Homo sapiens: one gene and its partners. The protein of the gene in region 1 purifies or fractionates together with the protein of each later gene. This does not show direct contact. Each region holds a gene or a part of one and is shown in the gene's direction. Other genes may lie near its edges.

Region 1 (9,417 bases):
TGTCCTCCCAAGCCAATGGATTTCTACGTGATCTTGATTAATTTCATGTCTGCAGTAGAAGTAGGTGGCATGGTGAATAGAAAGAAGTACACTCGAGATTCTATGCCAGTGGGTTGTAAGACCACCAAAATTGTTTAAAACAAGCTCTTCAGATTCCTCATTTGTTATTGAGGACAAGAGATGAGTCTCCTCTCCTTGGAATCAGATGTGTTCTCTTCCACATTAGTTGTGAAGTAAAAAGTGGACCAGGCTTGCAACTCGTAAGAACATTACAGCAAATAAAATGTCCAGGTAGAGTGTTGTCTCCGCTGGGGCTGCTAAAACAAAATGCCATAGATTGGATGGATGAAACAACAAACATCTATTTCTCAGAGTTCTGGAAGCTGGGAAGACCAAACATCAAGGCAGTAGTCTGGTGAGGACCCTCTTTTTGGTCCATAGACACTTTCTTGATGTATCCTCATACGGCAGAAGAAGAGATCATCTTTCTCATGTACCTTATGAGGGCACTGAACCCATTCATGTGGGCTCCACCCTCATGACCCTCATACTTCCCAAAGGCCCTACCTCCAAATACCATTACAGTTAGGATTTAGGCTTCACCACATGAATTGGGGTTGGAGGAGGGCATAAACATTCAGTCCATAGCAATGCCCTAAAGCATTCTACCTGTGACAACTCATGTAATTTCTCATTCAGGGAGAAAAAAAAACTGTCCACTATAACCATTTATATCAGCAGTTTTGTACAGTGATAAATAGCTCCTAAGCTAGGAATTAGGAGACCTAGGTTCTTGTCCTGCTCCTATCATTGGCTGGCTTTGGAGTCTAGACTGAGGGCAAATCATCTAACCTCTCTGAATCTTAGTTTTTTTGTCCATAAACTGGAGATAATAAAACCAGGCACAAGACTAAAGTGGAATGATGTATGTGAAAGTATCACATAAAATAGGGTGCTATACAAATATACAGAATTATACCTGTGCATAAATTGTACCACCCAGGAGCCTGCCTGGGTACATTCTCCTTAGAAGGGACAGATGGGCGGGGAGGGAGTGAAGAGCCTGTATAATTGTTCCTGTTCTTTAAGAAGAATGTCAGCTTTCAAGACCCCATCTGTTTCTAGCCAGACAAGAAGAAATTATGAGCTAGGTAGTAAGAGGCCCAGGAAATAGAGCTCCAAAAGAAAGAATAGGAAGACGGCTAATGAGAAGTATAAACAGCTAAGGCATCGGGGAGAGGAAGACATATGCATAGTTACCAGCAGTTACATTTACTTCAACGTGACCTTAGGTCCCACATTAATAAACCAAATTTGAAATATTAATATGAACACTTAAATATATCTTTAGCTATGACTGTTGCTATTGGCAGATTTTAACTTTGGTCTCCTTTGTTACTGAGAATTCTTAGATTGAGACTTTTGAAAATTTTTTTAGACATAAGCCTTACGTTTTTCTTGTCTGGTTGTAATCAGCTTGGTGGGCTTTTTATTTTTATAACCAACTTTTATTTCAAAAAATAAAAATCTCAGTGTTGTTTCTCTGTTACCTAGCATGATTTTAAGCTGCTTCCTTCAAAATATTAGCTGGCATTTGAAAAGTATTATAAAATATTTTTAGTATAAAGTTTATATTTCAGTGTATATTTTATTACAAAATATTTTTATAATTTGGAATTAAAATGTTAATTGAATTGTAAAATTCAGTTGCACTTAAAGTGTGCAATGCCTTGTGCTGGTCAAAAATAATACTAAATCCTCTTTAAAAGTCTTGGTAAATTATAAAATGAGATTTTGATTTATACATACCACCACTAACCTATTGTGAACAAAGTCATAATTTCATTAGAATGTACATATTTTTAATAGAATTTATAAAATCCCTTAGGCTTGCAGGCTGTATATATTATTGTAAGATGATAAATCCATTTCACCATTTAAAAAATTTCTGATTTTAAAAGTAACATTTATTGTAGAAAAAATCTGAGTAAGGATAGAAAAATTCAATTTCTTTACTTAGAAGGTAATATTTTTCATTTTTTCTATACATCTTATTTTACATATTTGAGCTCATAATGTATATAAACCATTCCAATTCATCTTCCTTTAAACATTGTTCTAAGCATTTCCTTGAATCATCGACAACCCTAAATTCCTAATTGCTCTGTAAGTTTATCATATGGATATGCCACCATTTTCATATTTTCCTAATGTTGGATGCTTAGATTGTTTCTGGCACTCAGAAATTGTCACTAAGTTGTTAGAGGAATAGTATCTCTTTAAAAGTTTATATTTCTTTAATTACTAATTACATTTGAATATTTTTGCAGGTGTTAGTCATTTTTTCCTTTTTTTTTTTTTTTTTTTTTTTTTTTTTTTTGAGACAGTGTCTTGCCCTGTTGCCCAGGCTAAAATGCAGTGGCAAGATCTCAGCTCACTGCAACCTCTGCCTCCTGAGCTCAAGCGATCCTTTCACCTCAGCCTCCTGAGTATCTGGGACTACAGACACACACTCCCATGCCCAGCTAATGTTTTTAATTTTTTGTAGTGACAGGGTTTCACCATGTTGTCTAAGCTGGTCTTAAACTTCTGGGTTCAAGTGGTACTACTATGTTGGCCTCCCAAAGTGCTGGCATTACAGGCATGAGCCACTGCGCCCAGCCTATGGTTTTTGCTTTGTTTTGTTTTGTTTTTAATGAACCATTCCAATTTTTTATTCCAATGTTCCTCGTAGTACTTACTAATAATGCATATGGTCCTTTATATTAAGGATAATGACTATTTGGTAATACTTTTGGGAAATACAGTTTTGGTTTAATTTTTTTTCTGGTAAAGTAATCGTTAAATTTTGAAAATACAAATAAGAATATAGAAGAAAATCTGCTAGGTGCAGTGGTTCATGCCTGTAATCCCAGCGCTTTGAGAGGCCGAGGCTGGTGGATCACTTGAGGTCAGGAGTTCAAGACCAGCCTGGGCAACATGGTTAAACCGCGTCTCTGCTAAAAAATATAGAAGTTGGGCCGGGTGTGGTGGCTCACGCCAGCACTTTGGGAGGCCGAGGTGGGTGGATCACGAGGTCAGGAGTTCAAGACCAGACTGGCCAACATGGTGAAACCCCGTCTCTACTAAAAATACAAAAAAAATTAGCCAGGCGTAGTGGCACACACCTGTAATCCCAGCTACTCAGGAGGCTGAGGCAGGAGAATTGCTTGAACCCGGGCAGCAGAGGTTGCAGTGAGCCGAGATCGTGCTGCTGCACTCCAACCTTGGGCGACAGAGCTAGACTCCATCTCAAAAATATAATAAAAATTAAAAAAAGAACATAGGAGAAAATAAAACAGTCCATCAGGATTTCTAACATTAAATACACACACACACACACATACACATATATACACATACATTTTTTTTTTGAGACAGGGTCTTTATTGCCCAGGCTGGAATGCAGTAGCATGATTATAGCTCACTGCAGCCTCAAACTCCTGGGCTCAAGCAATCCTCCTATCTCAGTCTCACAGTGTGTGCCACCACACCCAGCTAATTTTCAAACATTTTTTGTAGAGGCAGGGTCTCACTATGTTGCCCAGGCTAGTCTCAAACTCCTGGTCTCAAGCGATCCTCTCATCTTGGCCTTCCAAAGTGCTGGAATTACAGGTGTGAGCTGCTGCACCTAGCCAAGTTTAATTTTAACTGAATTAATACTTCATGTTCTTCATGGTATTCTGCTTAGTTCATGTAACAATATAAAATAAAAACTGTATTAAATACTTTACATTTAAAAATATTACATGGTATTCCATTATATAGATATGCCACAAATAGTGCCTTAAAGATGGACCTTTAGTGTTGCATTGTTTACTACTCTAAACTTTGTGATGTTCTTAAGATAAATTATAAATGGAATTGCTGGGCCTGAATGTACTCACACCTTTAACTTCATGCAAATGATCCTTCCAAAAGGCTAATTCAATTCCCATTAGCAGCATTTAGAATACCTGTTTTCTTATAGCTCACTAAAAATGGATATTTCTATTTTTCTTAACTTTGAGGTATAGTTTACATGTAATAAATGGACTCATCTTAAGCATACAGTTCAATTAGTTTTGACCAACATATATGTACAGCCATGTAACCACCATCCCAATCAAGATACAGAATGCTTCCATCACCCCTAAAAAGTTCCCTCTTGCACATTTGCATCAGTTCCCCTTCTCACCCTAGGCTCTAGATAACCACAGATGTTTCCTGTCAGTGTAGGTTACATTCTGTCACTATATAGATGGATTCATACAGCATGTACTTTGGGGGCCTAGATTATTTTGCTTAGCATGTCTTTGAGATCCATCCCTGTTGCTGCTTGAATCAGCATGTCTTCCTTTATTGTTCAGCAAAAGGCCATTTTATAAATATACCAAAACTTGCTTATCAACATGTGAATAAACATTTGGGTCAATTCCAACCTGGGGCTATTGTGAATAAAGCTGCTGTATGCTTATATAGGTCTTTAAGCCATGACTCTCTAAAAAGAGGTAATCCACTTTCATACCTGGGAGGTCTGTGGACTCTAGGTATATCATCCACTATTTCAAATCAAGCAAATTTCCCAGAGGAAAGCCTAGATCTTGTTTTGGGATCAAATTAGCAGGATGAGGCAATGGTGCAAGATATAATTTTGAGAGCATCTTGGAAAGCTATCTGGAAAGCACCTGATCACCCTCCTCCTGTATCAGCAAGAAGCATAAGACTCCTAATGCTCACTGCCTTCCTCTGTCCACGTCTTCTGGCTCCAGACAAGTCTAAGAGTCCTGCCAAGTCAGTCCCTGTCCCCTCCCATGACAGGGGAGGGTCAGAGGAGAAAATAACGACAGGCATCATGCAGTTTAATGCCAGATCCCCTAAATAGCTCCAGAAGGCAGTAGCAGGGTCAGGCTACCCCACAGGCCACTTGAGCATCTGCCCAGTGGCCTCCAGGGTATTCCAGGTACTCTTCTCAGCTGCAAGAGAAATGTGTACTTTATACCTCAGGAGAGTTCTGTGCAGTGATTTACAGGGCCTACCTTCTGGAAGTAGAATGCTAACTTCTTAAGAGCAACAATCCTGCCTTATACGAATTTTTATACATGCAAGGTACATAGCAGATACTCAAATATGGTTCTGGGTAATGTATAATCTAAGCCCAAGATGTAGGCATGGACTCCTGACTTATAAGTATTCAATGTTTAATAGTTAAAATATGGCCTTTAACACTTCCAATGAAATATTTTCAGTTATCACTTTGAAATATTTTTCTTTGGAATTGAAACTAATGATGGAAATTTTATGTAGATGTATTGTAGACAGGTTGTTTTGTACCATTGTATTTTGAGAAAAGCCAGTAAACTTTATTCCTTCTCTTCCCTTCGCCATTCCCCTTCTGTAGCAGGGACCATTTGGGGGATGAACATGGGGGTTTGTTTTAGAGACAGAATCTTGCTTTGTTGTTCAGGCTATTCTGGAACCCCTGGCTTCAAGCTAGCATCCTGCCTCAGCCTGGGATTACAGGGGTGAACCACTGCACCTGGCCAGCAGGGGCCATTTTAGAGTAAGCTTTAAAATTCTAAGTTTTCAAAAAATTAAACTTGAAAAACAAGATAAACTTTGCAGTTATTTTTATTAAAAGCAATATGATAGCGAGTGGCACGTTTGCAATGGGAATCAGATTTTATAGAGAAGAATGGTTTACAGACAGCTTTTTAGGAAAATATCTCCCATCATAAAGGAGGGAGCTAGACCACTAAAGGAAAGCCTTCCGAGCCTTGCAGACCAAGAGAATCTGGACTGGGTCTGCTTGATTATCCAGGAGCTACATCACTAATGTTAGCTCTCATCTATTGCTCGTGGCAGAATGAGGTTTTTTATCAGGCATGTTTCTCTTCCCTCAGTTCACAGACATTGGGACCTTCGAGACAGTGTGGCAAGTCAAGTTCTACAATTACCACAAGCGGGATCACTGCCAGTGGGGAAGCCCCTTCTCTGTCATTGAGTATGAATGCAAGCCCAACGAGACACGCAGTCTGATGTGGGTGAACAAGGAGTCCTTCCTCTGAAAGTGGCTCTTTCTGATGCTACTGGACAATCTTTTCAGAAATCTACTTTTAGATAAACCAGCGCAGGCCTTAAACAAGGCATGCCACACCATTGCTGTTCCCCATCTGGTACTAATGACCTACTAGCCCTGGTTATTTTGAAAGTGTAATTCCCCTCTGACACAATATCCCTCACATACAAGATGGTGATGTACCACTCCCGAGAATATTCCCATCTGTATTTTGTGCTGATGTTCCTGCATCCAGTTGTTCTCGGTCATACTTTTGACCACTTGTGACTGGAGTTCAGTGGCCCTGGCAGGCTTGTCCTGCTCTTGACCATTCCACTGACTAACTTTGGTGTTTTGTTTCCAAGTTAAGTGATTCCTCCTTTTTTTTGTTCAATGTTAAATTTAAAAATAACAATGTGTATGGGTCCTCCCATGTGTAATATGGTAACATGTAACTTGCAGTGTTTGCCAGCTTTCAAAGCAGGCTTTGTGAAAATGTAATACAAACAGCAGTGAATGGGACTCAAATGTTGTGCTTCCTATAAACAGCTCCGCTCTTTCAGGGAAGGATGGTAACAAACTAGAAGGACAAATATGTACGTATTTATAACGTATTAAAACTCTTTTAAGTAGCTTAAGGTATTGTGCAATGGCCTAGCCTAGTAGAAATGGGGGAAAAGCATTGCTGTGGACCATTGTTAAAGTGACAGGAGTTGTAGGGTTACCCCTTTGACAAGCTTCCATAGTCTTCAGACACGCACATTGATGGCATCCCTACAGTCTTCTTCACTTGAACTTTGTAAAACTGCATATGGACCTGTAATCAACTTTTGATATTTCTTAATAAAGGCGTTGAAAATCATGCCCTGACTTGCATTCTTAATTTGGGCAATAATTATCTAGCAGGTGAATCCCTGCTCTAGGCCAGCTTCACTCAGGCCTGTATGCTACAGGATGACGGGGATGTATCCGGAGTAGAATTAGCACACCTATTCATGAATCAAGCCTGACCTTTTAGCAGGATTGCTCCAGCCAAGTTTAACAGGGCTAGCACAGGCCCAGGTGCTTGGCGGGCAATCAAAAAATGCTTGTACCTATCTCGCTCCATTACTCTTTCTGTGGTGACCCCTCCCCAGTTGGTGAGCTATGTGACTCAGTAGCAGGAGAGCAATGGTGCTATAATAGTGTGTGTACATCATGGTTGAGGCCTCCTTGCCTACTTCCAGCACCTTGCACAAAGCCCATATACCATACAGTTTAAGGATAAATTCCATAAGAAGGAAGTGAACTTCCTCTTGAAAAGTAACATGCTATTTTCCAATAATGTAATATTTACTTGGGCAGCACAAATCCTATAGTATTGGAAAAAGTTCGTTGGGGATTGTTTGTTTTTGCTACCTGTAAACCCTTCTTATAAGAAAATGCAAGCTACTGGGAGTATTTTTAAAAGTTGATTCATTGTAGAACTGAATTTGAAAGGCTGGCACTCAACACCTTTTCTACCTCCAAATCGCTTACCTGCAGTGATGCTGTACAGCCACCAGGGAACAGCAATGCCTTGCCTTTGGGGATCATAAATGATGTTAAAGGAGTGTAACATGTTTCTCAATAAGCTTGTGTTTTTTGTTTGTTTTTTTGTTTTTTTTTAAAGTCTTCATTACAATTGCTAAAACGTAAGTACTAACCCATTCCTAATGACTATTTTTTAAAACCAACACTCAATTATTTGAACAGACATTGAGATATTTAAAACAATGGATTTACTACAGAGGTTTTTCTTCCAGAATATCCAATAGAAATGCAGAGTGAATAAAAGATTTAAAATAAAAAGTGGGAACTACACAATTTAATATTTACTAATTTGATTAGTAAATATTTTCACTGGTGAAACAGGTTTTCAAGCCAGGGACTAGAGCTTGAGTATTTGTGTTGAGGGTGGAGACATTATCATGACTTTTGCAATAATCCACTCTTTTTTTTTTTTTTTTTTTTTGAGATGGAGTCTCACTCTGTCACCCAGACTGGAGTGCAGTGGCATGATCTTGTCTCACTGCAACCTCCACCTCCCAGGTTCAAGCAATTCTCCTGCCTCAGCCTCCTGAGTAGCTGGGATTACGGGCGTGTGCTACCACGCTCAGCTAATTTTTATATTTTTAGTAGAGATGGGGTTTCACCATGTTGGTCAAGCTGTTCTCAAACTCCTGACCTCGTGATCTACCTGCCTTGGCCTCCCAAAGGGCTGGGATTACAGGCGTGAGCCACTACGCTGGGCCCATACTTTTTTTTTTCTTTTTTAACTAAAGGCTTTATTTAGAGTTTGAAATGAGTCAAAGCAGACTTGGAGGAAACATGTCCTGGGATAGCTGCGCTGTTATCAGTGTCCCACAAACGAGCCAGAAGATGAGCCCTGGCAGAGCACCTGGAGCGTGGGAGTCCTGCTCACATCCTGGATGGTCACCACACCTTTCTCTGCCTCAGTTTGCTTATCTCTAAAATGAAGGGTTAGACTAGTAGAATTCTGAAGCCTTTTAAGAGTTATGGTTTGTTCCTCTATTTTATACTCCTTTAAAAAAAAAAGGGGAAAGTGTGTGTGCATATCTGTCTATGTCGTATGTGTATGTGTTTCCTTAGGGCCAGAAGTAAGGTTGAATCAAGGGAGTTGGGGAGGAGATGGAGATGAAGTAACAGAAAAACTTAACAGCTAATCTGCACGTTAAGTGATCGCTCCTGGCATATACTGTTCTACTTATGATTGGGCTCCAGCCCAGTCTCTCTGGCTACTTCTCACATAGCTCTCCTCCTACTCCAAAATTTGAGTGCTCAGCTATATCGAGCTGCTGAGTTGTAACTTTGCCCCTCAGCCATCTGGAAGGGCTATTTTTATACAAGTTGTAGCCACGTCTCTCTACCTCCAAGCATCAGATGGCTACCCAGAAGCTTGAGGAACTAGGCCATCCTTCCAATTATGATGATGACTAAAACACTTTTGAACAGGTGGAAGAATAGAAATGCCTTGAGTTTATATTTTGTGACACCTCGCTTACTGAGAAGTCACTTATCCAGCCATTTAAACTATCTGGATCACAGTTAAGAACAGAAAACATGCCAAAAAATAAAGATCCCTGTCACAGATGTCACCAAGTCCATTCACTAAAGGCTCGGGTCTTCTCCCAAGGCCTCTTGACTCCTGTTTTAGACACAATTCTAACATGTGGGGTGATCTGGTTTCTGACTCTTATGAAATTGGAAGTAGAACATGAAAGGGAAGAAGACAATTTGTAGAGGCAGATATACTGAAAATATTCTTTTTTTTTCAGAGAGGACAGAGAAAACTATAAAAA
Region 2 (8,985 bases), on another chromosome or scaffold:
GCCATGGCTCATTTTGGGAGTTCACCTCAGCAGCATTGGCCAGCGCCTGAGCCTGTCCTCAGGGGAGCCCAGGCCGACTTGGGGGTGGCCTCAGGGGGTTCCTGGACACTGGTGAGGGAAGTGGGGAGGGTACCTTGAGGAAGAGTTTTGAGGAGATTGGAGGGTGGGGAGGGCAGGGGGCCGAGGGGCCGTGGGCTCTGCAGGGCTGACGTGGTACAGATGAGGAGGGGATCCCCGCAGCGTGATCTGCACTTGGGGTAGGGCCCTCTGAGGGCTGGTGGTTGTTCCATGGGGCAGTCGGGAGGGGCCAGCACATGAGGTGGGCTGGCCAGGCTGAGGTGCAGGGCCGAGGGCTTGGGTGAGGGGCATCTCCAGGAGGGTCCGGGCGTCGGGGTGGGGGTGGGGGCTGCAGTGGGCATGGAGGAACAGAGGGAGAGACTTAATTGGGGAGGGGGGACTGGACTGCTGAGGGACCCGCGGGCCGAGTTGCGCTTCATGTCTGAGGCCCAGGACTGAGTGGGCTGAGAGGCCCAAGAGTCAGCGCCTTTGGGTGGGTCTGGGAGGGGCTGCCATGCACAGTGAGCGCTCCCTGTGTGGGGCCTGGAGATGTGCCAGACACCCCGGTGAAGGTCCTGGGCCTGCCAGCTGAGTCCCCAAGACCCTGGCCAGTGCCGCTGGGTTCCCGGGGCTCCCCGAGCTAACCCCAGGCCTGTGGGCTCTGTTTTCTGGAGCAGGCGCCTGGTCAGGGACACCTCCTCAGCCCAAGTCCTCATTTTATGCATTTGGTGTTTTTCAGATTTTGCAAGAACGAGGCTCAAGGATGTGAGGGACACAGTATTGACAGCTGAAGAAATGATTTACGTTTTCCCGAGATGTAATGAACTGCCATGTCCAGGAAGCTTGGCTGTGAGAAGAAACCTGCTTTTGATCATTTTTCTAGAGATCTGGGTGTGAATCCTTTTTTGCCTCTGAGGTGGGTGGTGAGAGACGGGCCCAGCTGTCCAAGGCCAGACGTCCCCAAGTTGGGGGAGCACGGCGGCCGGGTGGGCGCTGCCTCTTGGGGGGGCCTCGCTCTGTTTTTTCCAAGTGCCACGTGGGACTGAGGCAGACACTCCCAGTCAGCCCGCTCGATCCTGAAGATCGTGTGAAGGAAGCGTTCTTGGTGCTACACACAGTCTGGAAAAGCAGCCTGGGCTTCACTGGCAGGAAGCGGCCGCAGCCGCGTCAGTGTCCAGCACGTCGTGGCCTCTGGTCCGACCACCAGGCCCTAGTCTCGGTCAGGGAGTCTGCTCTGCCTCCCAGGCGGGATCGCTGGTTTCTCTCGACCTCGCAGAGCTCCTGACAAAGGCGGCTTCTGCGTCGTCACTGCTTCCCGGCGCCATTCCGAGGCCGGGCCTTCTTCTGACACGGGCTCCAACCCCACCTGACCAAGCCCGGGACAGTCAAGGCTTCTCAATTTGTATTTTCCAGGCAAGAGAACTTTGTACCCCTTCTCTGTGTGGATAGACTCCCCAGCGTTTTTCCTCTGGAAATGCCCACAGGGCTTGCCGCGTGGAGACTGATCTGTTCCATCCGTTAGCGCGAGGTAGCAGTGTCGCCTCGCCCCTCCCACTGCGGGCTCACGGGGAGCTGGCGTCTGTCAGTGCCTTGTCACGCCTGGCATAGAGGTTGGGCTGGAGGCCTGTCCACTGGCTTCTGGAGCTGAAGGTCTGCGTCACGGTGAAAATTCGGGATGTTTACAGAGCATCACAAATGCCTCTCTCTCGCCGCTCTCTCATTTTCTTTGTATAACTATGCAGCCTTCCCTCTCTTTCTGGGATGTTTGGGACTTCACTCGACCTGCACGGGCTCTGCCCGACATGCCGTGGGAGCTGCTGGGATTCCTTTAGAAACCGCTGCCCGCATGCTTTGAAAACAGACCTTTCTCAGCTGGCTGTGGGGACCTGTCAGAGTCTGGGGACTCGGCGTGCAGGGCGGGCTCCAAGCGCTTTGCTTCCGGAACTCCGGCTTCCCAAGGGGTACTGTGCAGACTGACCACCGGCCTCCCGCCTGCAGGTCAGAGGCTCTGACACTGTCTGGTTTCCAATGCTTCTGGAGACTTCCTGCCTAGGCCTCATCCTCCTCTTTGCCAGTCACCTGATTAACCAATTCTCCAGCATTAGGACTTACCTCCTTCTTTTTGTAAGGTCTCTTGTATGTTGTTAAATGTTTGGCTTAAACAATTTATAAAAGCCTTTCTAGAAGGCAGACTTAGCCCCAGCAGAGCCTGGGAGGAAGGCGGCCGCTGGGGCTCCTGGGCATCCTCTCTGGGGAGCTGCTGGCCGCTTAGCGTTGTTTGATTTTTGACCTTGACATAGTAGATAGGCTTGTGGTTTTTTTAATTTAAAGATATTAAGACTTAATTCACTAAAATTTATTCTAAGGGGATATTTATACTTTTATACTTTTTTAGGTATCGTATTTTATCAGCTTACAGTTTAATGCCTAAGTTTCCCCTGGAAATAGCAAATAAAATTGTGTATTTATGAATGCGCGTAGTAGCTGTTTATGGTCTTAAGATGCAGGGGAATGCCACCCCGGGTCGCTCGGACCAAGGTGCTGCCCCTCCAAGCCGCCCAGCCCCACTGGCCGCGGCGGCTCACTCAGGGCTCTGCCTCTGCCTCTCAGTCGATGGCCAGGGCGGAGCTGGGCCATCCACGGGGTGCCGGCTTGGCCAGGGTCACTGGATCAGAGCTGCACGGCCCATCCCTGCACCCCACTCTGCCTGGACCCCTCACCTACCTCCAGCAGATAGCATACCCCCATCCCGGGAGACCGGAGACCATGTACAAGGGCCTTTTTTTTTCCTTAAGAGACAGGGGTCTTGCTATGTTGCCCAGGCTGGTCTTGAACTGCTGGGCTCAAGTGATCCTCCTGCCTCAGCCTCCTGAGCAGTTGGGATTACAGGCGTGAGCCATTGCGCGCGGCTCAAGTGATGTTTTTTTGAAAGTCCTGATACCTCAAGTTAGCATCCACCTCTCTTCCCTCACTTTAGCCTGCAGCCTGGGTTGTGACAGCAGGAGCTTCCCGAGAAGGTCCTGGGGTCCCGGCACCCCCTCGCCAGCTGCTGTGACTCCTCCTGGTGGCTGCTCCACGAAGCCTTGGCTGTTGGACTCCCCGCCCCCCCGCAGGGAGATTCCCATTCACGGTGTCCCCCAGGGCCTGGCTGTCTGAGGTCACAGAGCCTCAGGCTGTAGTGGCCTTGTCCATCCTGTTTCCAGGTGTGTGGCTGGCCCAGCCTGACCCCAGGGCCCTGGTGAGGGGTGGAGTGGGTGACTGGGCTTCTGGGTGCCCAGCATGAGGCCGGCACGGGGCTTGGAGTAGGGGAGAGACCCAGTTTCTGCTCCAAGGGGTCTTCCCGCTGCCCGACTCCCACCAGGAGCCTGGCTAGGCCTTACAGCCCCTTGACCAGGTAGAGTTGTGGGCACTTGGGAGAAGCCTCAGCGTGGCAGGCGTCCCCAGCCAAAGCCCGGAGCAGGTTTCCCATCCAAGCAAAAGGCTGTAAAGGAGACAGGCCCTGCAGTTTGGGTCCTGAAGCCGAGGATGCTCAGGGCCGCTGGGTCTGCTGGGCAGGGAGGGAGCCCTGTTCCTCCTCAGACCTTGGGCTCCAGCACAGCCCGCCCGCTGTGGGGACTGGGGCCCAGCCCTGTGGCTCCAGGAAGCCAGCGTGGGGGCAGAAGAGGAGGCAGGGGCGGGGCACATGCAGGTGCCCTGCGTGGGTGCCCGTCCTCCCCAGGCTTCCTGTAGAGCCCATGACTGGAGCCCTCCAGCGGCTGGCACCACCCTCCTTGACATCCCTGCATTTATTGGTGTCCACTCAGCAGGGACTTCTAGCACCCTCCTTCCTCCTAAAGCTCGTGGCAGTGGCCGGCTGGGGCGATGAAGAGCTGACCCCACAGTGCAGCCACCAAGGCCCTGACGTGGCATCTGTGTGAGGGACGATGACTTCCGGCACCTCTGCACTGAGCCGTGCCCCCCAAGATGGGTCACTTTGCCCTCAGACCACCTCTTCCTCCCCAGTGTTCCCAGGCCTGGGGCTCGGCACAGGGAGGCCTGGCCTGTGGCTGACCCCTCACCGCAGTTCTGGCCCGAATGGAGCCCACAGACTTCTTTCCTGGGGCTCCCGCTCCTGCTCTGTGTGTGTGTGTGTGTGTGTGTGTGTGTGTGTGTGTGTGTGTGTACCTACTGGCTGTACATGGTGTGGGTGTGGTGTGTGCCTGTGTGCACATGGTGTGTGTGGCATGCACATGTGTGCTGTATGTGATGTGTGGCATGTGGTGTGTGCTTGGTATGTGGTGTGTGCCTGTGTGTGGCATGTGACATGCATGTGTTGTGTGTGCCTGTGAGTGGCATGGGAATGGTGTGTGTATGTGTGCACATGGGCCAGCTGAGCCTGGGGATGAAGGCTGCCGCCCGCTCTGCCTACCTCCCTGTGAGCCACAGAATGTGCGCGGGCCTGTGCCAGGCTCTCCCTCGAGTCCCTCCTGGAGCTGGCAGGGGCCCTGCTGCCGCCCACCTGGCAGATGGCTCAGAGCCCTGCTTGGCAGCAGCGTGCAAAGTCTGAGCTGCACCCCCGCCCCAGGATGGAAAAGGGACCTGTGGCAACCTGGACTATTCCCTTCCTAACGTCCTTCTCACGGCATGCTTCGTGGGAGCTGTTAATTGCATGAAATAGCCCTGTTTTCCCTTCTCAACCCCTAGTCTCTGTAGAGAGTGTTTTCTGCTCCTCTCCCACGGGCATCTGCCTGTTGACATCCTGGGTCTGGGTGGGGTCTCAGCACAAAGACAGCAGGGGCTGCCCTCCCTAGACCATCTAACCTGTAGCCTCCCCTCTGACCACGGGGGCCTGGGGCTCCTTGCACAGCCCAGAGCAGGGTGCAGGTTCACCCAGGGCTCTCCGAGGCTGGGAGGCCTGGCCAGTCCCTGCTTGGCTAGGACCACCCAGTGCTGCTCCCTGGGCCTGCCTCTCCCTCCACCTGGGCTTCGTGCATCTGCTCCCCCATGGGGCTGTGCGCACAGGCCCCCCAGACCTGCCCACCCACCCCTGGGCTGGAGGAGTGCAAGAAATGGCCCACGGGGGCCACTGGGCAGCCGTTGGGGAGATGGGTCGGGCCCAGCGGGGAATTCCTTCTGTTTTGCTCCCCACGGTGTCCCCAGCAGCTGCTTGCTGAGTGGGTGTTGGTTTGATTCCTTGGTGGACACTCAGGGCCTGATTTCTTCCTGCCGCTGTACAGGCCACGGTGCCTGTGTGTGTGTGCACGGGTGCGTGTGGGTGTGATGTGCATGTCCAGCCTAATCCCCTTGCCACCACGCACTGCTCTGGACTCCTGCATGGGGGTGGAGACTGAGGGATGGGGCGGAGGAAGAGGAGCCAAGGGTCAAGGGGAGACGCCGGGGCACAGGGAGACGAAGGGTGCCAGGAGCAGTGGAGCAGGAAAGCACAGGTGTGGGCACCCACTCCTGCCGAAGTGGTTTAGAAAAGTTGGGTGGCCCCGAGACACGGGCAGCCGGAAGTGCAGGCTTGGGAGGCTGAGGTGCCCCCGCCCAGCCAGTCCCTCCATGCCCTCCTCTCGCCCCGGCACAGCTCCTGCATGGCCCTGAGGCTCTTTCCACCTGTGTCCGTCGCTGTCCCCAGTGCCAACCCTGGGGCGGCCTTTAAGGTGAGAGAACAGAGGCACAGGTGGCAGCAGGTGGCCTCCTGTGCGGGGCCCGTGACAGGGGTCCCATACTCTGGTGCTGTCCTCGCCTCGGGCACCAGCTGCAGCTCCCTTCTGCTGATTCAGAGATGACCAGAGCACTCCGCATCTCCCACCTGGGCTTCATCCTGCAACTCACAGCTCCTCACCCGCCGGGGTCCCCCAAGGATCCCCACGTGGGCAGCTGGCACACAGGCTGGGTTTTTATTGGGAGAAACATAAATAAAATAAGGGTATTTGAGAGGGGAGGAAGGAGCGCTATTTACAAATGAGTCTGGTGGGGCTCACAGGTGCAACAGCAGCGCTGGGAGGACCAGCAGGATGGTGTGGGCGGGCAGGCTGGGTGCAGAGCTCTGCTCAAGGGGCTCCTGGCCCCGGGGGTCTCACTTCTGGCCGCCCAACCTCGCTGGCTGGAACTGCAGTTTGGGGATGATCCGATGGATCCAGTTGTGGTGGGCGGTGACACGGATGTAGACACCTGGGCGGTTCTGGCGGGCACAGCCCTCACCCCAGCTGATCACCCCCGCCTGCAGCCACGACTGACCCACGAGGCACACCAGGGGGCCGCCCGAGTCGCCCTGCGGGGGACGCAGAGTCACCGTCAGAGCCCACCTTGAGTTCCCAGAGACTCAGTTGCAGCCGCACAGGAGGTGTGTAGCTCCGCAATGGATTCCTTCTCTCCATCCCAGAGCCTCTCTGCCCGGCTCCCCATCCCCTGCCAGTCCGATTGTCTAAAGTGCCTATTCTTTAGTGTCCCCAGATCAACTAGGGTGTGTGTGTGTGTTGAAAATGCAGTTTCTTGTGCCCCACCCCAGACCCACTGACTCTGATCCTTCTGGGGTGGGGTCCAGGAATCTGCTTTTTCTTTTTTTTTTTTATTGAGACGGAGTCTTGCTCTGTGGCCCAGGCTGGAGTGCACTGGCGCGATCTCGGCTCACTGCAAGCTCCGCCTCCCAGGTTCGCGCCATTCTCCTGCCTCAGCCTCCCAAGTAGCTGGGACTACAGGCGCCCACCACCACGCCTGGCTAATTTTTTGTATTTTTAGTAGAGATGGGGTTTCACTGTGTTAGCCAGGATGGTCTCCATCTCCTGACCTTGTGATCCACCCTCCTTGGCCTCCCAAAGTGCTGGGATTACAGGCGTGAGCCACCACACCCGGCCCTGGAATCTGCCTTTTCAAAACAAGCTGCTCAGCTGGTTGAATGCATAGCCCATGGAGCGGGGCATGATCCCACCCTGCCCTGGGCCTGGCGGTGGGGACTGAGTCCCCATGGACACCACATTGCTCCCACCTTGCAGGCATCCTTCTTGCCCTCCTCGAAGCCGGCGCACAGCATGTCATTCTTGATGGTTTTGGGTTGGTAGCCAAACTCGGTGTCTTTGCTGTAGAGCAGGTTGCACTTGGGTGTGTCGATGATGGGCACAGCGAGTTTCTGCAGGATCCGCGGTTCGGGCAGGAGGTCTGGAGAGGGGCGGAACAGCCCAGGGCTCAACGGACTTCCTCATCAAGAACCCACGGCCCCGGGAACCACCACTCCATCCTGCCTGTCGTTTCCTCATGTTTAGACCATCTCTGGCTTAGGGCACTGTGGGGCAGACATCCTCCCTCCTTCCAGGCAGCAGGCTGGGCCCTTTCTGTCCCCCTCTCCCTTCACCCCCTCTTCCTTCTGGGTCTGCTGCTGCTCCCCTCGGCCCCACCTGTGTGAACAGAGACCGTGTGTATGTATTAATATAGCAACAGGAAGATTGTGGGTTCAGAGTGGTCCCCAAGCCGTCCTGGGCCTTCTTGAGGCATATCCCCCATTCTTTCCCAGCCCTGTCCCCTTACCTTCCTCACTGGGGCTGCCCCAGCCAGTGACCCAGCAGTTCATGCCCGTCTCAAAGATCACCGAGGGGTCAGGCAGGCACACGGGGAGGATGTAATTGGTGAAGGGCACTGGTGCCTCCAGCTCCACCAGGGCCACGTCAGCGCTGGAGGCCGTGCCCTGGTACAGGGGGTTGCTCTCCACCTGCCTCACCCGGGCATACATAGCGTGTGGTCCCGGCTGCACTAGCTGCCTTGCCCCCAGCAGGACCTGGTACAGGGACGTCTCAGAGGTGCTGGCGGGAGAAACAGAGAGGCGGCGTGAGGCGGCCCCTCGTGTGGGGACAGGCCCGGGAGGGGCTGGGGCTCCTCTGGCCACCACCGTGCCCCACACCTCTCTCTGCACAATGTCTTCGAGAGTCATCTCTAGGACAGCCAGGTGCAGCGGTGATGCGTGTTGACATTGAAGCCAGACCGCCCGACTCAGATTTCCACCTCCACCCCTGGCCGCTGTGTGGCCTTGGGCAAGTCACTTAACAAGTTCTCTGTGATGCAGCTTTCTCACCTGTGCTGTGGGGACAGTCACAGTGCCTACCTGAAAGGCTGGCTCGGAGAGAACCACCCTCCAGGTGCAGCAGGGCCAGCCCCACCTGCGGGCCTCTGGCAGGTGACCTGCCCTCTCTCAGCCCGAGTTTCCGATTTTTTTTTTCCCCTAGAGACAGAGTTCTCATTCTGTCACCCAGGCTGGAGTGCAGCAGTGCAACTGTAGCTCACTGCAGCCTCCAACTCCTGGGCTCAAGCCATCCTCTCGCCTCAGCTTCCTGAGTACTTGGGACCACAGGCACCACTGCACCTGGGGTTTTTTTGTTTGTTTGTTTTTTGTTTTTTAATTTTTTTTTATTTTTAGTAGAGACAGGGTCTTGCTGTGTTGCCCGGGCTGGTCTTGAACTCCTGGGCTCAACTGATCTGCCCGCCTTGGCCTCCCAAAGTGCTGGGATTACGGGTGTGAGCCACCGTGCCTGGCCGTGAGTATCTGAATTTAAGATGTGGGGTTTTTTTTGTCATGATATTCTTTTAAAGATCAAGAAGAAAAAAAAGAAAAAGATGTGGGGTTTAAAATAATTAGAGCTGCGGTGTTGAGGTGTGAGGTGAGGGGGCCTGGGACACCCGGAAGGTGTGGGACCAGGTGGTTCATACATGGCAGAGGGCTGGGTGGCCTGGCCTCTGCTCAGGGCTTTCTGGGGTGGTTCAGGTGGGTGAGGGGAGGAAGGGCCGTTCTGTCTGGTCCTTGGGCTTTGTGAGCAGAGTTCCTCCCGGGAAGAGTGTCCTGGAGCTGAGGTGTGTGCGGGATGGGGAAAGGCCAGGAGGGGCCGGTGGGCAGAGCCTGCCGGGCCGCTTCTGCAGGGACCCACAGGGAGTGGGTGAGTGGGTGGAGGGGATGGAGGG
Region 3 (12,977 bases), on another chromosome or scaffold:
AACTTTTTAGAAGAAAAATGTACAAATACTCTTTCTTTCATAAGAAAAATCTCAGGGAAGTTTCTTGTTTCAGGCAAGAATGGGGATACTCTTCCACTCTCTAAAAATGCAGATCATTTACTGCACCTAAAGACAAAGGTAAGGAAGTTTGTTTAGGCTCTGAATTCTAGAGCCTGAATTCTAGGCTCATAATTCCCATTCTGAATTTTGAGGTTACTTAGTTTGCATCATAAATTGTATAAATTCTAAAACTATTTGAATGAAGGACTGTGTCACCAGGACTGGGTTTCCTGTGATTATAAGTAGGACGTTGAGGATTTATTAGATGGATGTATACAGGAAATAGGTTTCTCTTCTTTTGATATTATTATGAAAATAATGTGCTTTTATTTATTTATTTATTTATTTATTTATTTATTTATTTTTGAGACGGAGTTTCACTCTTGTTGCCCAAGCTGGAGTGCAATGGCACCACCTCAGCTCACCGAAACCTCCGCCTCCTGGGTTCAAGCGATTCTCCTGCTTTAGCCCCCCAAGTAGCTGGGATTACATGCATGCGCCACCACGCCCGGCTAATTTTTTGTATTTTTAGTAGAGATGGGGTTGGTCAGGCTGGTCTTGAACTCCCGACCTCAGGTGATCCGCCCGCCTTGGCCTCCCAAAGTGCTGGGATTATAGGCGTGAGCCACCGCGCCCAGCCATGTGCATATTTTTAAAAACTCAAATAGTACAAAAGGGTATACAATGAAAAAAAAATCATTTTGTGAGTTTTTAAAAACTACATACATGTTACATTCAACTTTTCTTTATTCTCCAGATTCTTTTTTGTTTGGTTAGTTGGTTGGTTTTTTTGTTTGTTTGCTTACTTTTTTGAGGCAGGGTCTCATTGTGTTATCCAGGCTGGAGAGCAGTGGCACGGTCACGGCTCACTGCAGCCTCAACCTCCCAGGCTCAGGTGATCCTACCACTTCACCCTCCCAGGTAGCTGGGACTACAGGTGTGCACCACCATGCCCGGCTAATTTTTTGTAGAGTCAGGGTTTCACCATGTTGTCCAGACAGGTCTTGAACTCCTGGGCTCAAGCAATCCTCCACCTCAGCCTCCCAAAGTGCTGGGATTACAGGCATGACCCACTGTACCTGGCCTTCAAATGTTCTTCATTTGCTATTTCTTAGAAGTCTTTAAAGCAGAACGCCGTACACAAAACAGAAAATAAGTACTTCAAACCACCTATCCTCCAGAGCTTTCCTTCAGTAAATGCCTCCCTGCTCAGGTTTCTGAAGTTGGGGTCTAGTATGAGGCTATCTATGAAGTATTCAAAGGGCCAAAATAAGAATAGACCTCCATTCTTGGATTTGGAAATCAAAGCCATGCCTTTTAGGTGCTCTGCCTCTGAAATAATCATATTAATGCAGACCACACGAGGATCGAGATTATGTGTAGATATCTGTGGGTATGTCCAGAGTGGCAAGAGCTTGAGGCGTCATGTCCCAGTGCACCTTGTTATGTGAAGTTTAATTGCACATTCATCTTGATTCCTGATATTGCCAGGGTCCTGAGAACATTATCTGTAGCTGTATCTCCCCATGTGGAAGTTGGATAGCCTATTCTACAGTTTCTCGGTTTTTTCTCTATCGGCTGAATTATGAACATGACAACATAAGCCTCAAAAGGGTAAGTGATAGTCCAATATCTGGTCACATAAGAGGAAACTTCCTAAATATGTCATTTTTGTGTGAAGTGGAAATCAACTGGATGTGAATCCTTGCTCAGTTAAAAACTATTTGGAGATTTGGAGAAGGCTGTTATGAAACAGTGTTTTATTTCTTTCTTTCTTTTTTTTTTTTTTTTTGAGACGGAGTTTTGCTCTTGTCACCCAGGCTGTAGTGCAATGGCACAGTCTTGGCCCACTGCAACCTCCGCCTCTTGGGTTCAAGCGATTCCTGTGCTTCAGTCTCCCGAGTACCTGGGATTACAAGCACCCACCACCACACCTGGCTGATTTTTGTATTTTTAGTAGAGATGGAGTTTCACCACCCGTTGGCCATGCTGGTCCTGAACTCCTGACCTCAAGTGATTCACCCGCCTCAGCCTCCCAAAGTGCTGGGTGCTGGCATTACAGGCGTGAGCCACCGCACCCAGCCTTTTTTTTTTTTTTGACCGAGTTTCACTCTTGTCACCCAGGCTGGAGTGCAATGGCACCACCTCAGCTCACCGCAATCTCTGCCTCTCGGGTTCAAGCCATTCTCCTGCCTCAGCCTCCCGAGTAGCTGGGATTACAGGTGCCCACCACCAGGCCTGGCTACTTTTTGTATTTTTAGTAGAGATGGGGTTTCACCACGTTGGCCAGGCTGTCCTGAACTCCTGACCTCAGGTGATCCACCCCCTCAGCCTCCCAAAGTGCTGGGATCACAGGCATGAGACACTGCGCCCGGCCCACACCCAGCCTTTATTTCCATTTTGAAATTTTGAGGTATGTTCTTAGAGGGATAGGGTAATGCCCTACAGGCAATAAAATTAAAGCTTTTCTGTTTAGTGGTTTCACGTGCGACTTAGTTATTTCCTTGATAGAGAAGTGAATATTTAGTAAAGAGATGAAAGGGGGATGTATAGATTACTGGAGAGAAACCAGTGTTCTGTGCCGAGTCAGTTGGCTTACTTAGAGACAGGAAGCATTAATGTACCTTAAGCCTAGCTGTGATTGTTTCTGATGGGCTGTAGGTCTCCCTTCTCTCACTGGCTTTTATTATTGGTTCACCCAAAGGTTTCCAAAATGCCAGCATTCCTTCGCTCTGCCCTTCAGATTTTGTTTTCTGAAGATTCAACAAAGCTCTTTGTAGCATCAAATCAAGGAGCTCTGCATATTGTTCAGCTGTCAGGAGGAAGCTTCAAGCACCTGCATGCTTTCCAGCCTCAGTCAGGTGGGAATCTGGTAACTGGCCATGGGGAGACTTGTCGTGTCTAAGATGTAACTTTTTTGCTTTTAAGCCTCCATGTCGGGGGTTCCCTCATGTTCCTCCTACCCTGCAGATACACTCACTCACATGTTTGCTGTTTCAAGTAGGAGGAGATAGCTGGCAGATGAAGACTCTCGATGAGATCTGCAATGTTCTTCACACCTACTCTTTTCTCACTGGGTTTTTGATTCCTTATTTGGGGCCAGAGAAATTTCATCATCCTTAGTTTGTTAGCAGAACAAGAAGAAAGTTAAAGTCATTTGCAATCCTGACACCCAGAAATAGCTACCATTAATATTTTGGTATTTTCTAATATGTATTTGTATATAAGTATTTTGTGGGCATGTTGCCTTTTTTGGTTGTTTGTTCATAAAAAGGTACAATCATAGATGGCTGCCACCTCGACCTCTTGGGCTCAAGTTATCTTCCCATCTCAGCATCCTGAGTAGCTGGGACTATAGACACTCACCACTATGCCCAGCTAATTTTTTCATTTTTTTTGTAGAGACGGGGTCTCATTATGTTGACAAAGTTGGTCTTGAACTCCTGGGGTCAAGTGATCCTCCCATCCTGCCCTCCCAGCTGAGATTATAGGCATGAGCCACTGTGCCTGGCCCAAAAGTATTCTTATACATACAGTTTAATTACCTGTGTTCATATAATGTTCCTGAGAATTTTTCTGTTTTCATTGAGAATGTGAGTATTAATGAATGAGTGTGGCTATGTAGCTAGCTATGGCTAACTGTTAAGGACTTGGACTCAGTTTCCAGATTAAGCTGGTAGTTGTTTTGATACTTCCTATGGGCCTTTCACCTCTCCCTTGTCCTGGATTTTAGCTGCTGCTTCACTGTCATTTACACTCCCATCAGCCTGGAAAGTCAACTCTTTTTTTTTTTTTTTTTTTTTTTTTTTTTTGAGATGGCCTCACTCTGTTGCCGAGGCTGGAGTGCAGTGGTGCGATCATGGCTCACTGCAGCCTCACCCTCCCCAGGCTCAGAAAATCCTTCCACCTCAGCCTCCCAAGTACACAGGAGCATACCACCACACCCAGCTAAGTTTTGTATTTTTGTAGAGACAGGGTTTCACCATGTTGCCCATCCTGGTCTTAAACTCCTGGGCTGAAGCAATCCTCCTGCCTCAGCCTCCCAAAGTGCTAGGATTACAGGTGTGAGTCACCATGCCTAGTGAAAGTCAACTCTTTTATCTTCAACTCTCACTGTTCATAAGCTGATCCAGAAGCCTACAGGAGAAGAAACCCACAAGTTAGGGGTCAGATAAATCAAACTATTTATTATCTATATATGTTTTTATTACAAAACTTAGGCTATTTATCTTATATCTAGCTCTCCTTGAGATTCGACTCTACATTATGTATATGACTTTATTTTTTCCACTTCTCTCATCTCACTTCCCCTTGTAGTCAAAATGGTTTCTTCACAGCTCTCAAACCTGCATATTCTACTCCTCGTCACTTAGCTTGCACTGTTCCCCATCCTTTTTTCCTCATCCCCACCCATCCTTTGGCAGCTGGGTTATGCTTGTTATAAAGCCATGTTATCGTTTGGGGGCGTTACATGCAGCACGCATTTTGGCATAGAGCATCACTGTCCAATTTTTATCCCACACTAGTTGTCGTGTTGCCAGATTGGTTTAAAGTCTCTAGATGACAAAGATGGCTCAGACGTGCCCATCCTCCCTTAGTGCTAAATACACAGCAGGCATCCAATAAATTAAAGATATGCTTCAAGTCTATTGAACTTGCTGTTTGTCCGTAACTTTTTTTTTTATTATTAATTTATTTATTTTTGAGATAGAATTTCAAAAGACAGAGTTTCTTGTGCCCAGGCTGGAGTGCATTGGTGCCATCTCGGCTCACTGCAACCTTTGCCTCCCAGGTTCAAGTGATTCTCCTGCCTCAGCCTCCCTAGTAGCTGGGATTACAGGCACCCACAACCACGCCCAGCTATTTTTTTTTTGTACTCTTAGTAGAGATGGGGTTTCACCATCTTGGCCAGGCTGGTCTTGAACTCCTGACCTCAGGTAATCCACCTACCTCTGCCTCCCAAAGTGCTGGGATTACAGGTGTGAGCTACCACGCCTGGCCTGTCCATAATTTTGGCTTAAAAAAAATTTAGGGGCCGGGCACAGTGGCTCACACCTCCCAGCACTTTTGGAGGCCGAGGTGGGCAGATCATAAGGTCAAGAGATCGAGACCATGCTGACCAAAATGGTGAAACCCCATCTCTACTAAATATACAAAAATTAGCTGGGTGTGGTGGTGCACGCCTGTAGTCCCAGCTACTTGGGAGGCTGAGGCAGGAGAATGGCTTGAACCCGAGAGGCAGAGGTTGCAGTGAGCCGAGATTGCACCACTGCACTCCAGCCTGACAACAGAGTGAGACTCCGTCTAAAAAAAGAAAAAAGAAAGAGGCCAGGCACGGTGGCTCACGCCTGTAATCCCAGCACTTTGGGAGGCCAAGGTGGGCGGATCATCTGAGGTCAGGAGTTCAAGACCAGCCCAGCCAACATGGTGAAACCCCATCTCTACTAAAAATACAAAAATTAGCCAGGCATGGTGGTGGGTGCCTGTAATCCCAGCTAGTCAGGAGGCTGAGGCGGGTGAATCACTTGAATTTGGGAGTTGGAGGTTGGAGTGAGCGGATCCGCCACTGCACTCCAGCCCGAGTGACAGAGCTAGACTCCATCTCAAAAAAAAAAAAACAAAAAACAGAAAAAAAACCATTTGGTAGGAAAGGAGTTTGAAACAATTAAAGTATATATTTTAGTGGCAGATGCTGCCGTCATTCTCTATTCCTGTAGTAAGCAGTGTCTTAGGCCTGAGGAAGTAATAACTTCTGTTTTATCTCTCTGGACCTTCTTTACAGGCGGGATGGTTAAATAAGTAGATGAAAAAAGTAGAAACATTAACATCTAGAAGTAATTTGCACAGTGATCAGCAAATTATCCTGGCAGTGATTTAAAACTCTAATGGTCTCCTTGGCTTTTGCCATCATCTCCAGGGCAGGTCTGGCTGTGGACACTGTGTGAATTCAGAGATGTAACTGTTTTGTCCTCACAGGAACAGTGGAGGCCATGTGTCTTTTGGCAGTCAGTCCAGATGGGAATTGGCTAGCTGCATCAGGTACCAGTGCTGGAGTCCATGTCTACAACGTAAAACAGCTAAAGGTGAGCATAGGGTTTCATGGCAGCAGTTTGAATCATTGTACAGGAGCCAGTTCACCCTGCAGTTACAAGATTCAAGGCAGATTGGCATGACCTGGAAATTTATTAGACTTTTTTCTTTTTATTTTCTTTTCTTTTCTTTTTTTTTTTTTTTTGAGACAAAGTCTTACTCTGTCACCCAGGCTAGAGTGCAGTGGCGCGATCTCGGCTCACTGCAACCTCAGCCTCCCGGGTTCAAATGATTCTCCTGTCTCAGCCTCCTGAGTAGCTGGGATTACAGGTGTGTGCCTCCACACCTGGCTAATTTTTGTATTTTAATAGAGACAGGGTTTCACCGTGTTGCTCAGGCTGACCTTGAACTCCTGAGCTCAGGCAATCCGCCCACCTCGGCCTCCCAAAGTGCTAGGATTACAGGCATGAGCCACCGCGCCTGGCCAGACTTTTTTCTTTTTAACTAATAATTTTTCCAGGTTTGGAATCCTGTTTTATTTTTATGGAACCCGGAAGCTATACTGTGTAACATTAAAAGCAGCTAATGGAAACAGTGAAACCCATTCATACCTGGAAATTTGAAATTAATGATCTGTGGGTGATGTAAACACATCCAGGTTCTTTCTGTATTTTCGGGAGGAAAATTCTGATATACACAGACAAATAGTTGCAGATAATAAGAGTTCCTTTCATGGCTTGCCTTGTAATCTCAAGGTAAACATAATCAAAACTTCGAAAAAGGAATACTGGGAAAACATTTTTCACTAATCAGTAATGACGCTGTCAGTCATAAATTGAGTCATTAGTGATCCCTTACAAGTCCTCATCTTCATTATAAGAATCAGATTCGAACTACCCAAAACTTGGAATAAGCATTAAAAGTGTATAGAATAACATCAAACTGCAACACTTAATGGGTTTACCTGTTAACTGCATAGTGTAACCTTTGTTGCATTATGGTAGGAGCATGTACTGAGCACTTGTCTTTGAGCCTTGCCTGGCATTTAAAGAGTGTTTGTGTGTAGCGTGCACATGCTTTGCAATTGTACATAAAAATCCATGCCTAGGCATTTATTTATTTTAAACCTGGTGTAGAGCTGTAGACTCCCTATTCAATGACACATTTATAAGCAGTTTGTACAGATGGATTTACTCAGAGGGAAAGGCTTTACTCTCAGTTCTCCACAAACGCTGTTAGTTTTGTACGCGGTTAAATAAGCTTTTTATTTTTTTGAGACAGGGTTTCACTCTGTCACCCAGACTGAGTGCAGTGGCACAGTCACAGCTCACTGCAGCCTTGACCTCTCTGCTCAAGCGATCCTTCCACCTCAGTGTCCTGAGTAGCTGGGACTACAGGCGAGTCCCACCACACCTAGCTAATCTTTTTTTTTAGTAGAGATGAGGTTTTGCTGTGTTGCCCAGGCTGGTCTTGAACTCCTGGACTCAAGCGTTCCTCCCGCCCTGGCCCTTCCGAAGTGCTGTAGTTACAGGTGTGAGCCACTGCGCCCAGCCAATAGGCCTTTTGTTTTTTTTTTGAGATTGAGTCTTGCACTGTTGCCCAGGCTGGAGTGTGGTGGCGCAGTCTCTGCTCACTGCAACCTCCGCCTCCTAGGTTCAAGTGATTCTCCTGCCTCACCCTCCTGAGTAGCTGGGATTACAGGTGCACGCCACCACACCCAGCTAATTTTTTTAATTTTTGGTAGAGATGGGGTTTCACCATGTTGGCCAGGCTGGTCTCAAACTCCTGACCTCGTGATCCGCCTGCCTTGGCCTCCCAAAGTGCTGGGATTATAGGCATGAGCCACTGCGCCCGGCCAACCAATAGGTATTTTTTTAAGAAAATGAGGACTGGTGCGGTGGCTTACGCCTGTAATCCCAGCACTTTGGGAGGCCGAGGTGGGTGGATCATGAGGTCAGAAGTTCAAAACCAGCCCGGCCAACATAGTGAGACCCCGTTTCTACTAAAAATACAAAAATTAAGCCAGGTGCAGTGGTTCACGCCTATAATCCCAACACTTTGGGAGACCAAGGTGGGTGGATCACCTGAGGTCAGGAGTTTGAGACCAGCCTGGCCAACATGGTGAAACCCCGTCTCTACTAAAAATACAAAAATTAGCCAGGCATGGTGGTGGGTGCCTGTAATCCCAGCTGCTCGGGAGGCTGAGGCAGGAGAATCACTTGAAACCGGAAGGTGGAGGTTGCAGTGAGTCAAGATCATGCCATTGCACTCCAGCCTGGGAGAAAGAGTGAAACTCCATCTCAAAAAAAAAAAAAAAGAAAAACAAAAAATTAGCCGGGTGTGGTGGTAGGCGCCTGTAATCCCAGCTACTTGGGAGGCTGAGGCAGGAGAATCACTTGAACCTGGGAGGCAGAGGTTGCAGTGAGCTGATTATCACGCCACTGCACTCCAGCCTGGGTGACAAGAGCGAAACTCCATCTCAAAAAAAAAAAAAAGAGAAGAAAAAGAAATGAAAGTTCATTGGTTGGGGAAATGCCTGAAATTTTTGGAACTTCCCTAGAACCCTTTTGAATTATGAGGAGCAGTATTTAAACCCCTGACCTAGACCATTCAATCTTTGCTGAGGAAAAGTGTCACTTAGAGTTGCCACTTGTGTCTGTTATTTGTTCCCAGCTTCACTGCACGGTGCCTGCTTACAATTTCCCAGTGACTGCTATGGCTATTGCCCCCAATACCAACAACCTTGTCATCGCTCATTCGGACCAGCAGGTAAGGGAGATTCCAGTGCTTTCTATTCCCTTCCTGCTGGATAGTAACCTAGAAGCTGGAATATTGGGCAGTTGCGGGGAGCTTTTTTTTGAAGGTGTTGGAGGATATAAGGTAGTTTTCTCCTGTGTGAAGTAAAGCTTCCTTGCCGGTCTGGGCTCATCATAGGCCAGCAGTATGCATTGGTTTGATGGGATGCAATTTAAATGGAGAAGCACTAAGATTCTAGAGTAAAGAATCACAAGAGGGAGGAGGAATTTTGAAGTACTCATTTTCCTGATTGTTTTAGAGGAGAGATGACATGGGCTTGGGTATTAAACTGGATATGGGATGGAATAAGATTTTGAGAGTTGAAAGTGACTAAAAGATTGTATCATTCACCTTTACGCTTGCCGATGAGGAAATCAAGCCCTAATAAGATCAGGTACCTAATCTCAGCCAAAATTAGAACCTAATCTACTTTTTTCTATACCAATTTGTAAGGAGATTGTGATTATAAGGAGATCTTTAAAAAAAAAAAAACCTGGGCTGCGGAATATATTAGGAAGTTATCAATAATTATATTAGGAAGTTATCAATAATTCATCTGTAAAATTGGAGATGTTAATATCTACCTCACTGAGCTGTTGGGAAGATTAAATGTAATCCAGGAAGCACATTTAAGTAGAGTGCTAGGCAAATGATGCTTACTGCTTTGATGGTCAGTTTGTTTTTTTTTTTTTTTTTTTGAGACAGAGTCTCGCTCTGTCGCCCAGGCTGGAGTGCAGTGGTGCGATCTCCGATCACTGCAAGCTCCGCCTTCCGGGTTCATGTCATCCTCCTGCCTCAGCCTCCCGAGTAGCTGGACTACAGGCGCCCGCCACCATGCCCGGCTAATTTTTTGTATTTTTAGTAGAGATGGAGTTTCACCATGTTAGCCAGGATGGTCTCGATCTCCTGACCTTGTGATCCGCCCGCCTCGGCCTCCCAAAGTGCTGGGATTACAGGCTTGAGCCACCGCGCCCGGCTGATGGTCAGTTTTTACACTCACACATGCACACACACACTGTCCAAAAAGTGAAATCTCTCAGTTTTATAGATTTGAGTCCTTGACCAAAGACTGAAAGAGTAGTGAAGCCACACATCTTTGCCTTTGTCACACATAATGATAATTTCCCCCATGACACCTTTTACTGGCACTTAGTCCCTTAAGTGCTTCTGAAAGTAAAACTGATGGGAAGTTTTTTATATCTGTTAGATTAGCAAAGATCAAAGACTTGATAATATACAGTGTTCTGAAGGTATAGGGAAACAGTACTCTCACACATTGTGTAAATTATCCTAACCCTTTTGGAGGACATGTTGGCAATACCTTAAAAATTTTAAAGTCCACATGGTCTTTGACTTAGAAATTTCAGTTCTAATCATTCTTTATATATATATATATATATATATATATATGTATATATATATCTGTATATAGATATATATGCTTCTAGCTGTGCAAAAAGACATTTATACAGAGACAGCTTTGTTTGTAGTAGACAAAGATATGAAACAAGCTAATGTCCATTAAGCAGAGTGGATAAGTAAATCATGATACATGGACAAAATGAGTGGACTATTCTGTGTTTCAGAATGGGCATGACCGATATATATGTGTATTAATGTGGGTCAGTCTCCGTGATATAACACTGAGCAACAAAAGCAAGATACAGAACGCTATGTATTATGTGCATAAAATAGCTCTGAAAAGATGGGCAGGGCGCGGTGGCTCACGCCTGTAATCCCAGCACTTTGGGAGGCTGAGGCGGGCAGATCACGAGGTCAGGAGATCAAGACCATCCTGGCTAACACAGTGAAACCCCATCTCTACTAAAAATACAAAAAATTAGCCGGGCGTACTCGTGGGCGCCTATAGTCCCAGCTATTTGGGAGGCTGAGGCAGGAGAACGGCTTGAACCGGGGAGGCGGAGCTTGCAGTGAGCGGAGATCACGCCACTACACTCCAGCCTGTGTGGCAGAGTGAGACTCCATCTCAAAAAAAAAAAAAAGTGTTGGGAGAGCATAGAATGAATATAATACAGTTGAAGCTTTGTATAGATACTTTCTGGTTAGGGATGAGAATGCCCTTCTGGTCTTTCTGAGTACCAGCCTGCATTTCTCTATGTCATGTCCTCCCTCAGGTATTTGAGTACAGCATCCCAGACAAACAGTATACAGATTGGAGCCGGACTGTCCAGAAGCAGGGCTTTCACCACCTTTGGCTCCAAAGGGATACTCCTATCACACACATCAGTTTTCATCCCAAGAGACCGATGCACATCCTTCTCCATGATGCCTACATGTTCTGCATCATTGACAAGTCATTGGTGAGTTCTTCACTGCTACCTCCCAAATCTTCTTCTGAATCTTAAAGTTCTAAAAGCAACAAGTACAATAAGGTAAGAGGACAGAGACTCAGAATAAAGGTAGCTAGTAAATCAGAATACAGGTAGCTAGTACATTTCTTGGAGGAGAGGGGCTTTTGTTTTACAGATTCCCTGGTTTGTGTTCCCACAGTTCTTCGGGAGGCTCTCGGGGAAGGGGCTGGCCTTTGTATACTGGCTTTTGCTGATTTGACTATTTGTCTACTTTGCGAGTAAGCACATAAATCTTACACAGAAAAGTGATTAGGCCAGTATTCGGAAGGTGACCCTCATCCGGAAGTATCATTGATTTGGCTAACTTGCTTTCAACTTTGAACTCTGGGGTATCTGAATAACCTGGTTTCATTAAAGGAGGTACAGGCTGAGGTTTTGACCTCTGTGCCCCTTCGCTAAAGCTACTAAAACGCTGTCTGCAGGCTTGAGGAACTGGTCTTAACATCTTCGAAAAACCCAGCTAGGAAAATTCTTCATGGCTGTGATTTACATGGGATACGAGCATTTTCTTCAGTTTTAGATTCTGTCCTCTTTGCCAGCTGCTGTTTTGATTCACCCTGAATTTGTATGGCTTTTCTGGGCAGGTGCTTTGTTTCCTAGGAGCATTGTGGCCATGCCTGTCCTGCACTTTGGGCTTAGATTACAACCATCACACGGTGTTTTGGTGTGTTTGTGAAGGTGGGGGTGGAAGGAACATGGGGGAAAGCAGCAGATGGCTCTAAAGGAGGTGTGCACGGGGATGTGTCACTGGAATCATCTCGTGGGCCCTGCGACCTCTGGGTGTGGGAAGCAGAGCTGGCTGACAAGTGCCTTCTGCAAGATGAGTGATACAGGAAGGGCCCCTCCCACTCTCTTGCCTCTTTGTAATTGAGCCCAGATCATTTTTTCCAAAGCATTGGCTTTAAGTTCATCGCTTCCTTACAGTAGGCATAGCTATTTCCCAGGAAGTCAGAGACAAAATATCATTTCTTTGGCCAGAGGCCACCTCGAGGTGTCAGTGACATCAGCACAGGTGGTTTGTGTTGAGGTTTCGCCTGGGGAGAACTCCAGTCACTTGTCCAGTCTGTGATCTGGTTGGGGGAGAGTCTAGAAAGCACAGACCCTGTGTGGGCTGAGCTCCTGCACTTGCCAGTTTGTTCCATTCTGACAAAGTGATACTGATGAGACAGGCCAGAAGCCGCAGAAGGGCCCTTTGATCTTGCTGCATGGAGTTAACAAGCTCTCTTTGCCTCATACACCCACCCTCTACAGTGTGGCTGCAAGAGTAGCTTCAGCTCTTTCTCCCTCTCTCTCCTTTTCTTCTTTTTTTCCCCCCTAGTTTTTCTGAATAGAGGTATTATGGCTACAGCTGTTTTCCCGAATTAACGAATGTCAGGGAGGTACTGAATATATATGATGGTTAGAAGATGATGTTGGGCTCAAAATGCACTACAGATCTTTGGTCTGCAGAAGCCCAATAAAAGTAACCATTTAAACAATGTGTCTTTGTTTTTTTAGCCCCTTCCAAATGACAAAACCTTACTCTACAATCCATTTCCTCCCACGAATGAATCAGATGTCATCCGGAGGCGCACAGCTCATGCTTTTAAAATTTCTAAGATATATAAGGTAAAACATCTTGTGTTGTTATTCTGGATAGTTGGTTCCTTTGTGATACCAAAATGTAATAAACTCCACAATCGGAAGATAAGAGCACCTTCAGTTTCCATGCAGAGAACC

What was found.
Region 2: the proteins of CNRIP1 (region 1) and KCTD5 purify together in Homo sapiens (affinity purification with mass spectrometry; 2 studies listed by BioGRID and IntAct, with this or other methods). This does not show direct contact.
Region 3: the proteins of CNRIP1 (region 1) and UTP4 purify together in Homo sapiens (affinity purification with mass spectrometry; 3 studies listed by BioGRID and IntAct, with this or other methods). This does not show direct contact.

The regions. Positions count from the first base shown.
Region 1 is NC_000002.12:68,290,531-68,299,947, reverse strand, and holds the end of CNRIP1 (CB1 cannabinoid receptor-interacting protein 1), read left to right. Parts: exon of another isoform or gene 1-317; intron 318-5,921; coding exon 5,922-6,086; 3' UTR 6,087-6,938; downstream 6,939-9,417.
Region 2 is NC_000016.10:2,706,502-2,715,486, forward strand, and holds the end of KCTD5 (BTB/POZ domain-containing protein KCTD5), read left to right. Parts: intron 1-796; coding exon 797-826; 3' UTR 827-2,529; downstream 2,530-8,985. Other genes in the region: PRSS27 (serine protease 27 isoform 1 precursor), read right to left, coding at 6,119-6,313, 7,028-7,197, 7,564-7,835. UniProt on the Homo sapiens protein: Its interaction with CUL3 suggests that it may act as a substrate adapter in some E3 ligase complex. Does not affect the function of Kv channel Kv2.1/KCNB1, Kv1.2/KCNA2, Kv4.2/KCND2 and Kv3.4/KCNC4.
Region 3 is NC_000016.10:69,154,320-69,167,296, forward strand, and holds part of UTP4 (U3 small nucleolar RNA-associated protein 4 homolog), read left to right. Parts: intron 1-73; coding exon 74-138; intron 139-1,551; coding exon 1,552-1,674; intron 1,675-2,764; coding exon 2,765-2,921; intron 2,922-6,036; coding exon 6,037-6,143; intron 6,144-8,763; coding exon 8,764-8,859; intron 8,860-11,021; coding exon 11,022-11,207; intron 11,208-12,755; coding exon 12,756-12,866; intron 12,867-12,977. UniProt on the Homo sapiens protein: Ribosome biogenesis factor. Involved in nucleolar processing of pre-18S ribosomal RNA. Part of the small subunit (SSU) processome, first precursor of the small eukaryotic ribosomal subunit.